Regions from separate parts of the Homo sapiens genome. Here region 2 is linked to region 1. Evidence: fine-mapped expression QTL. A gene starts in region 1. The other region holds a variant in brackets. All regions are shown on one strand. Distances are between the middles of the regions. Region 1 holds the start of PCDH19 (protocadherin 19). Region 2 holds the start of LOC105373298 (a long non-coding RNA gene).

What was found. PIP is the estimated chance that this variant, and not a neighbour inherited with it, causes the effect. A credible set is the group of variants that fine-mapping cannot tell apart.
Region 2: its variant is the best candidate, but not a certain one, in a credible set for the expression of PCDH19 in prostate (GTEx, PIP 0.54).

The regions. Positions count from the first base shown.
Region 1 is chrX:100,408,563-100,412,949 of GRCh38, reverse strand. PCDH19 (protocadherin 19) reads left to right here and starts at 2,677. Exons shown (of 6, transcript NM_001184880.2): 1 at 2,677-4,387. The coding sequence starts at 4,353.
Region 2 is chrX:100,621,753-100,626,139 of GRCh38, reverse strand. It overlaps LOC105373298 (a long non-coding RNA gene), which reads left to right and starts at 3,984. Exons shown (of 3, transcript XR_938469.2): 1 at 3,984-4,019. The variant A/G (reference allele first, on the strand shown) is at 1,778.

The sequences.
Region 1 (4,387 bases):
AGAGGGGTGCCTGGAGTGTGAACAGCGAGCAGGAAGCAGGGAACACGGTGGCATCGCCTTAGCAAAGAGGGTTTGTCTTTGCAAATGCAGAACATGTCTTTACATTGTGATTGCAATTATGAAGGTAATGACATTGTACATGAATTGAATTCTCCTATTTATCTTTAAAAGACAGCAGAATATAGACATTCTATTAGCACTCCCTAAGGTAAGAGGTCTGCAGTCTTCTTATCTTGTTGTGTGCATCTTTTCAGATGCTACGACAATGTTAATCATTTTACCTGAGTAATTCTTCCATTTCTCGTTACCTGGGGGATTGTTAATGGCCGAGACTACTTCTCAGACTCTTTGCTCCCGCTCAATCAAGCCGTGGAGGCGCCAGTTTACTTTTATTGATCAGTGGGTTCCTGACAGCCTTCGCCACAAGGAAGCAGCATCATCCTTTTTTAACTTAAAGGGGGAACAGATCGCCTTAAAGTTTACAGCTAAAAGCTTCTAAGCATAGCATGCAAACATTTTAGCATGCTGCTAATTGTTCTGTTTAAATAGTCCAAGCAATATTTTAGAAAGCTGCCAAACGCCGAATTCACATCCCGTGATCAGATAGCAAACCCATTTCAAATGCCTTTTTAGGCCTTTTTAATTAGACCAAGATGCACTTCATTCCCATGCTCTGACATCAAAGGTAAATAACTGTGATAAATCAAATGGAACCCTTCCTTTCGCGGAGCCCGCGAGGTGCGCCCACCGCTGCCTGCCATGTTGTCATTCTCTACTACTTGCCCATTTCTCCAACGGTGTCTGGAGAAAACCGGTCGGGCCACCGGGCTCCCTTGAGCCACCACTCTGGTGTCCACCCGCAGCTCTAAATGACCAAAATTAAATGATACTCATTGCAGAAGCATCGGTTTTCTCCCTGTTGTTCTGGGCCGAATCACATCCTAACGTGAAACAGTGAAACGACCCCCACGCGGAAAGCGGATCAGGCTCCCTACGCTCTCCCTTTGGCCTCGGCTACATATTCAGGGGATCGCAATCTCACTCGCGAAATAATTTCTTTCTGTAAGAGGAAGCCGCCTTTCCCCTCTCCCACCGCCAAGGTAAAGGCTGCTAAAGTAGCTCTTCTTGGAAGGAAAAATATTTTAAAAAGCAGCTGGGTTGCTCTCCACAAGAAGATGGCAGTTTTGAGAAAACCCATTATGTGTCCAAATGCCGGTTTCCTTTTCTTGTTTAACGCTTTTTAGAGGGCAAAAATGACGCTCATGTGAAGCCCACAGGCTCGAGCCAATGTCGCTGGGCTAATTATGAGTCTGCTTATCCCACTCCCAAATATCCGAGACGACTCACTCAGAAGACATTTTTACTCTTCCAAGAATTGTGAATTCAGAAGCAGCTTCCCCACATTCTAAGAGAAAAAAAAACTTGTTTAACGGGCACGTTTTTGATTTTTTTGCCGCTGGCGACCTTAATTAAAAGCCTCAGAGCCCGGGTGGGGAGGAATGCCCCGCTGCCCCCAGGGAGCCTTCAGTGCAGAAGGCAGGATGAGCTTGATGTCAGCCCTGGCCACGCCGGCCTCCCGCTTCCCAGTACTGGCACATGCCGCAGCCACCACCGCCGCCCAAGTGGAGCTGGCAGCCCCCTGGGACCGAGACCCCGCGGGAAGGCTGGGGCGCCCTGCACATCGGCGCCGGCTCCCAGCTGTCGGCGACCTAAGCGGACATGTATGGCGTGCCCGCCCCAGAGCTCCTGCCCGGCTTTGAGCTCTGCTGGCTTGGCGCGGCGCGGCGGCGTCCGCTCCACCGGCTCTTCTCAAACGTACAGTTTATTTATAGGGAGCTAAATTCTCCAACAGGGTGGGGTGAGGGGCAATGAAATGTGTCCGGCCCCCTCCGTAGCTCATTCTCTGTGCCACATATCCCATTTGATTAACAAGCAACAGACAAGAGCGAACCGATCCAGGGGCCCTGCTGGGAGTGCGGCACGCAGAGAGTAGTGCGGCGTCTGCCCGGGGTGGAAGGATGGGGGTGACGGTCCGGGGGGGTGGCGGCCGTGGCTCTGGCCTGATGTGAAGACACACCGGCTAAGAGCTGGATGAATGACCACCTCAGGGGCGCTTTCTCCTTCCCTTTCTTCCTTCCACTACCAGAGAATGAGAAGAGAGGAAAACAAAAACAGACGATTTTTTAGGGTGAAGAGACAAGGAGAAATAGAGGGATATATATATGTGTGTATATATATATATATGTGTATATATATGTATATATTATATTCAAGATATGAAGATATGTAAGGGAGGTAAACACGATAAGACAATCATATCATCCTCATCTTTCCTGAAATCTCTGCAAACATGAGAAGCGCACAGTTCCCGGCGAGGCTCAGCCGCAGCGCCAGCACACCGCCTCCCTGCTCATTCCTGCCCTATTGCTCCTGCCTGGCCTGCCTGGCCTGTCTGTCCGTCCTCCCATGAATCCCGCCAGGGCTCCATGGGCCGGGGTACCACTTGGTCCCGCCGGTGTGAAGTTTCCGCTTGGCCCCGCCCCCCCGCTACCCCCCGCCTCCGCTTGGCCCCGCCCCAAGACTGGAGCCCGCTGGCGGCGCGCTGATTGGCCAGGGCCTGGCGTAGCCGGGCTCGGCAGCTTGAGCTTTCTCCGGCTTTCTCCAGACTCCGCGGCCAGTAGTTTGCGGCATCCGGAGGAGCAGCAGCAGCAGTAGCGGCGGCGGCTGGCGCAGCGCGGAGACGGACGAGCGGGCACAGACGGCAGCACAGCTCCCGTGCACCATGCCTGGCTTGCCCGGGAGGCACTGGCACCCGCGTCCCTAGCCCGGCGCTGGCCCTTGGCGCGTTGCGCTCCGCAGCATTCCGGCTGAGCGATTTCATCCGAAATCCTAAACCTCCTACCCCAAACCCATTGCCTCCTGCTTGCTCATACTCCACACTCACACTCCCCACACCACACACTCACTCTTCCTCTCTCTCTCACACATTCACACACAGCCCGAGACAGACAGAGAAAGCGAGACAGACCTCCCGAGTGCGCGAGCGCCCGGGAGGAAGGGAGCCCAACGCAGCGCGGCCAGCGCCTCTCCGGGAAGATGAAATCAAGACGCTCCTGCAAGTAAACTTCGGCGGCGACAAAATCGTCGACTGTGGCAGCTGCTGAGGCGGACCCCAGCGACGTGCAACTGAGCTAGGAGGGCTTCCTCCCGCGGCGGCGGCGGCGGCGGCGGCGGCGGCGGACCTTGGAGCGACACCCCAGCCCAAACGGAGAGAAGAGAAGCACCCGGTACCCACGGCGGCGGCCCCGCCTCTCCTGGCCGGTACTGTTGTTGCCTCCCCTTCCCTCTTCCCCATTCCCCGCCACCCCCGGCCATTAGAAAGACCGGGGCTTTGATTTTCTTGGACAAATTGCCATCTCCCCGTTTCCACAAACTTGACGTGGAGGGTCGGACTGCGTTGTTAACTTTGATTTCCTAGACGAAAACGCCCGCAGACCCTCAACTGCTCTGTGGGGGGAACTCCGCTCCCACCTCGGATCCTGGACAGACGCGCCCCCAAGCCCTTCGAAGCCAGCCTTAGCGCGAGGGAGCGCGCTCAAGCTCTGGCAGCCTCTCTCCCCTCCCCCTTCCTCTGCTGGCCCCGGGACCGCCATCCGACTCAACCCTATAACCGGGTGCCCGCGGCGCTTGCCAGTAACTGACTCCCGTCTGCGACACCCCCTTTCTCCCGAACAGGCCTCGAAGAGGCCAGTGTGGCCCCCCCAGACCCCGGAGGGCGCATTCCAAGCGGGTACTCTCTCCGCAGTGAACTGGGAGCGCTGGGGGGAGGTCTTTGCGCATGCCAGGTGCACAGACAGCGAGTTCGCCAGCCTCAGTGCCGGTGCACCGCGGCGGGCCGGGCAGTGCCTGAAAGGCTGCGCCTCCTCCGCCCTCTTTACCTTCGCCTCAAGTACTGTCCGGACTCAGCGGTGCGTCCTCCAGGCCGCGCAGACGCCGCCCGACCCGCAGCCCTGGGCGGCTGCCGACAGTCGCGCCCGGCTAACTTTGAAGGGGTAAAACTGAGTAGCCGGGCTGGAGGGAGGGGGCTCGGGGCCGCGCGGCGCTCCCTTGGCCCCTCGGAGCCCCCGGGGCCCCCGCGAGCCCCCGCCGCGTCCGCCGCAACCTCAGCATTGGAGCCGCCGCGGGTGTCCCCCGCGCGCCGCCGGGCCGCCCTGGGCGGGACTTCTCCCGCGGCCTCCGGGGCCACGGGGCGCGCGCAACAGGCGGCCCGAGCCGGCGGGAAGCTGGAGCGCCGACGGCGTCGGTCTCGGAGGGGTGTGGAGAGGCGAGGCCAGGCAGAGCCCCGTGCAGCCATGGAGTCGCTCCTGCTGCCGGTGCTGCTGCTGCT
Region 2 (4,387 bases), 210 kb before region 1:
ATCTCATTCTATGTAAGCCACCATTTATATAATAGAAACCACCTGCCCAGTCAGAAACCACTTAACCTCGGAAACCACAGCTAACTTCCTCCTGGTCAAATCGCTTTTTGCTGCTTCTCTTTCTTGAAGTCTTTGTTGCATTTGGTACCACTAAAAATATTTTTCTTTTTTTGTTTTGACTGTGTAACATCCTGATTTTCTTCCCTTTTACTGCTCTTTCTAGTTTACTTTGTTGTTTGAATTTCCTCCTCCTTTTCAAGTGTGGCTGACCCCAAGGGCTTGTATTTGGTTTTTTGCTCTTAGATTATGCCGACCTTACCTTGAGGAATTAAAGTACATGATCATCAGGCCTAACCTTTTATTCTTGGGACATGCACTTTAGTTGTGTGTTGGTCATAGCAGCTTGCTTATATTCCTACCCCTCTCCAATACCTAAAAGTTTAGTAGCATTCTGAACACTTAAAAATTTTTAAATATTCCTCCTATAACATCTAGCAAATGGAAGAGTAAGTACTTATTTGACATTGACCTACCTGGCTCTTTAATCAGGGATGACATGGCTTATGGAAACTGGGGAAAATGGGTCAGCTGTTCTAACCACAAGCATTTATCAAGTGCACATCAGTTCTTTGGGATTGTCATGCTTCATCTGATGGTGTTCTCATTACCATATCCTCAAAATTTTCATTAAAAAAAATGAAGTGGTGAGTTGGTAAGGCTCTTGTTTCTTCCAGCCAGTTTCTCACCACTTTTTTTCTGGGAAAACACAAACCTATTAGCAATGTCCACAAAGCAAATCAAACTGACGTGGCACTTGCCTGGATATAGACAATTCACCAATGGCTATATACAGCATATATAGCAGGGTAGACAATTACTCAGAATCATAACTAGAAAGGTAAAGTAGCTACATTATGTACACAGGGCAACCTAGGGTACAGCGTAAGAGATTCTGGACACATTTTCCTGTCCAGAAAGGCCATGTACTTCCTCAGCAGGAAAGTGGCAGATAAGGGCAGGTGCGGTGGCTCACGCCTGTAATCCCAGCACTTTGAGAGGCCAAGGCAGGCAGATCATCTGAGGTCGGGAGTTCGAGAGTAGCCTGACCAACATGGAGAAACCCCGTCTCTACTAAAAATACAAAATAAGCGGAGCGTGGTGGTGCGTGCCTGTAATCCCAGCTACTTGGGAGGCTGAGGCAGGAGAATTGCTTGAACCCGGGAGTCAGAGGTTGTGGTGAGCCGAGATCACGCCATTGCACCTCTAGGCTGGGCAACAAGAGCAAAACACCGTCTGAAAAAAAAAAAGTGGCATATAAGAGAAGATAGGCCATTTGAAAAGACTATTTCCCCCCTTCAGTTTCTTTTTTTTTCTTTGTGTGTGTGTGTGTGTGTGTGTGCGCGCATGTGTGTGTGACAGAGTCTCTCTCTGTCGCCCAGGCTGGAGTGCAGTAGTGCGATGTTGGCTCACTGCAACCTCCGCCTCCCGGGTTCAAGCAATTCTGCCTGCCTCAGCCTCCTGAGTAGCTGGGATTACAGGCGCATGCCACCACGCCCAGCTAATTTATTGTATTTTTAGTAGCGACGGGGGTTTCACCATGTTGGTCAGGCTGGTCTCTTACTCCTGACCACCTCAGCCTCCCAAAGTGCTGGGATTACAGGTGTGAACCACTGCGCCCGACCTGTCCAAATATCTTTTAATCAGTCCTTATTGAATATGAAATCTTCAAAGAGAAAACCTTCATGAAATAATATCCTATTCTCAGGAACGCTTTTAC[A/G]CTGTTGGTGGGACTGTAAACTAGTTCAACCATTGTGGAAGACAGTATGGCGATTCCTCAAGGATCTAGAACTGGAAATACCGTTTGACCCAGCCATCCCATTACTGGGTGTATACCCAAAGGATTATAAATCATGCTGCTATAAAGACACATGCACATGTATGTTTATTGCGGCACTATAAACAATAGCAAAGACTTGGAACCAACTCAAATGTCCAACAATGATGGACTGGATTCAGAAAATGTGGCACAAATACACCATGGAATAATATGCAGCCATAAAAAAGGATGCGTTCATGTCCTTTTAGGGACATGGATGAAGCTGGAAACCATCATTCCCAGCAAACTATCACAAGGACAGAAAACCAAACCCTCATGTTCTCACTCATAGGTGGGAATTGAACAATGAGAACACTTGGACACAGGGTGGGGAACATCACACACCGGGGCCTGTTGTGGGGTGTGGGGAAGGGGGAGGGAGAGCATTAGGAGATATACCTAATGTAAACGACGAGTTAACGGGTGCAGCACACCAACATGGCACATGTATACATATGTAACAAACCTGCACATTGTGCACATGTACCCTAGAACTTAAAGTATAATAATAAAAAAAGAATATCCTATTCTCTCACAATATGCCCTTTGTAGGGTGTTAGTATACAGTAAGTACATATTAAAAACAAACCAACCAACCTTGTTATTATTCCTCAGCTCCACAACATCATCGAACCAAGGGAATGATTACAAAGAGAGTTAATCGCAGTCTAAACATCAACTCTTTCCATTTTCTTTTAAGCATCTCAACAGTCTAATGCTTCCTAAAGTTTACAAACTATTATTTCCTATGTTAGTAAAGACACTCCACAACACTTAGTTGCTTTCATAACATAGTCCCATTTGAGTATCTTTAAATATTAAGTGAAACAAACAAGAACAAAAACACCCATGCTACACACTCACACATCAGGGCAGAATCACTCCTACTCTTCAGGCACAAGTCCAAACTCCTGCTTTCATTAAATGGGTTTGTTCGCACATGTGCACATGCATGCAGATAATCTATTCCCCTACAGAATAGAAGCAATTTCTGAAGCAGCCAGCCCCCCTTAGAGTGCCCCAGGGGATCCAGGGAGTTCAGAGCTGCACACTGCAGCTCAGGACAGCCTTGAATCCAGCCCAATCACAGTCTTGCCCAAGCAGAGCGAGCAATACAGGCCCTTCTTTCATGAAGTTTTCCGTAGCCTCCTACCCAACCCTTCTTGGCCTCAGCCCCATCTTGGGACTCTGACACTGGCAAGACAAAATGTAGCAGAAAACATGTCATGGTAATTATTTGAGAACTTGGCCCGAAGACACACATATCCCAAAGAACATGGAAAATGTAAAAATGTTCAGGGAAATTAAAGGTGTATAATGTAACAAATCAAAGATAACCAATGTTTTGATTTAAAAGTAGAAGTTTCTTATCTACAAAATGAATACATGAGTTATTAGAAAATGTATAAAAAATTCAGAATTCAAAGAAGTATAAAGTAATAAGTGAAAGTCTTGCTTTGCTGCCCACCCTCACTCCCACTGCCCAGAGAGGATCACTGATTAAAGTGCCTTATGATTCCTTCCACACATTGCCATATACATGTGTATCTGTACAAATTTTTCTTCCCACAAATGGAAGCCATGGTTAAGATCACAGACTCTAGAGCCAGACTGGCTAGGTTGGAGTTCCTTCTTTACCAATTACTGGTTGTGAGCTCTTTGGCAAGTCACCTAATCTATCTGTGCCTCAGTTTCCTCATTTATGAAAAGATAAATAATATTACTTGCTTCATAGGGCTGTTATAAGGATTAAATGAGTTGCTTATATGCCAGACACTTAAAACAGCGTTATGTGTCAGTCTAATATTTAAAGGGTCTTTATTGAGATATATTTTACATATCATAAAATTCAGCTCTTTTTTTTTTTTTTTTTTTTTTTTTTTGAGACAGAGTCGTACTCTATCACCCAGGCTGGAGTGCAGTGGTGCGATCACGGCTCACTGCAGCCTCGACCTCCAAGGCTCAGGTGATCCTCCCACCTCACCCCTCCAGTAGCTGGGACTACAGGCACGTGACACCATGCCCGGCTAATATTTTGTATTTTTTGTAGACACGGGGTTTCGCCATGTTGCCCAGGCTGGTCTCGAACTCATGGGCTCAAGGGATCTGCCCACCTTGGCCTCTCAAAGTGCAGGGATTACAGGTATGAGCCACTGTGTCCAGCCGAATTCACACCCCCCCTTTTTTTTTTTTTGTGATGGAGTCTCGCTCTGTCGCCCAGGCTGGGAGTGCAGTGGCGCGATCTCGGCACACTGCAGGCTCCGCCCCCGGGGTTCACGCCATTCTCCTGCCTCAGCCTCCCGAGTAGCCGGGACTACAGGCGCCCGCCACCTCGCCCGGCTAATTTTTTGTATTTTTAGTAGAGACGGGGTTTCACCGTGTTAGCCAGGAAGGTCTCGAGAACTCACCCCTTTTAAGTGTGCAATTCAGTGATTTTAGTGAGTGGTACAATCATCACCATAAATGAGTTTTACAACATTTTCACTCTCCTAATAAACATCCCTCTTGCTC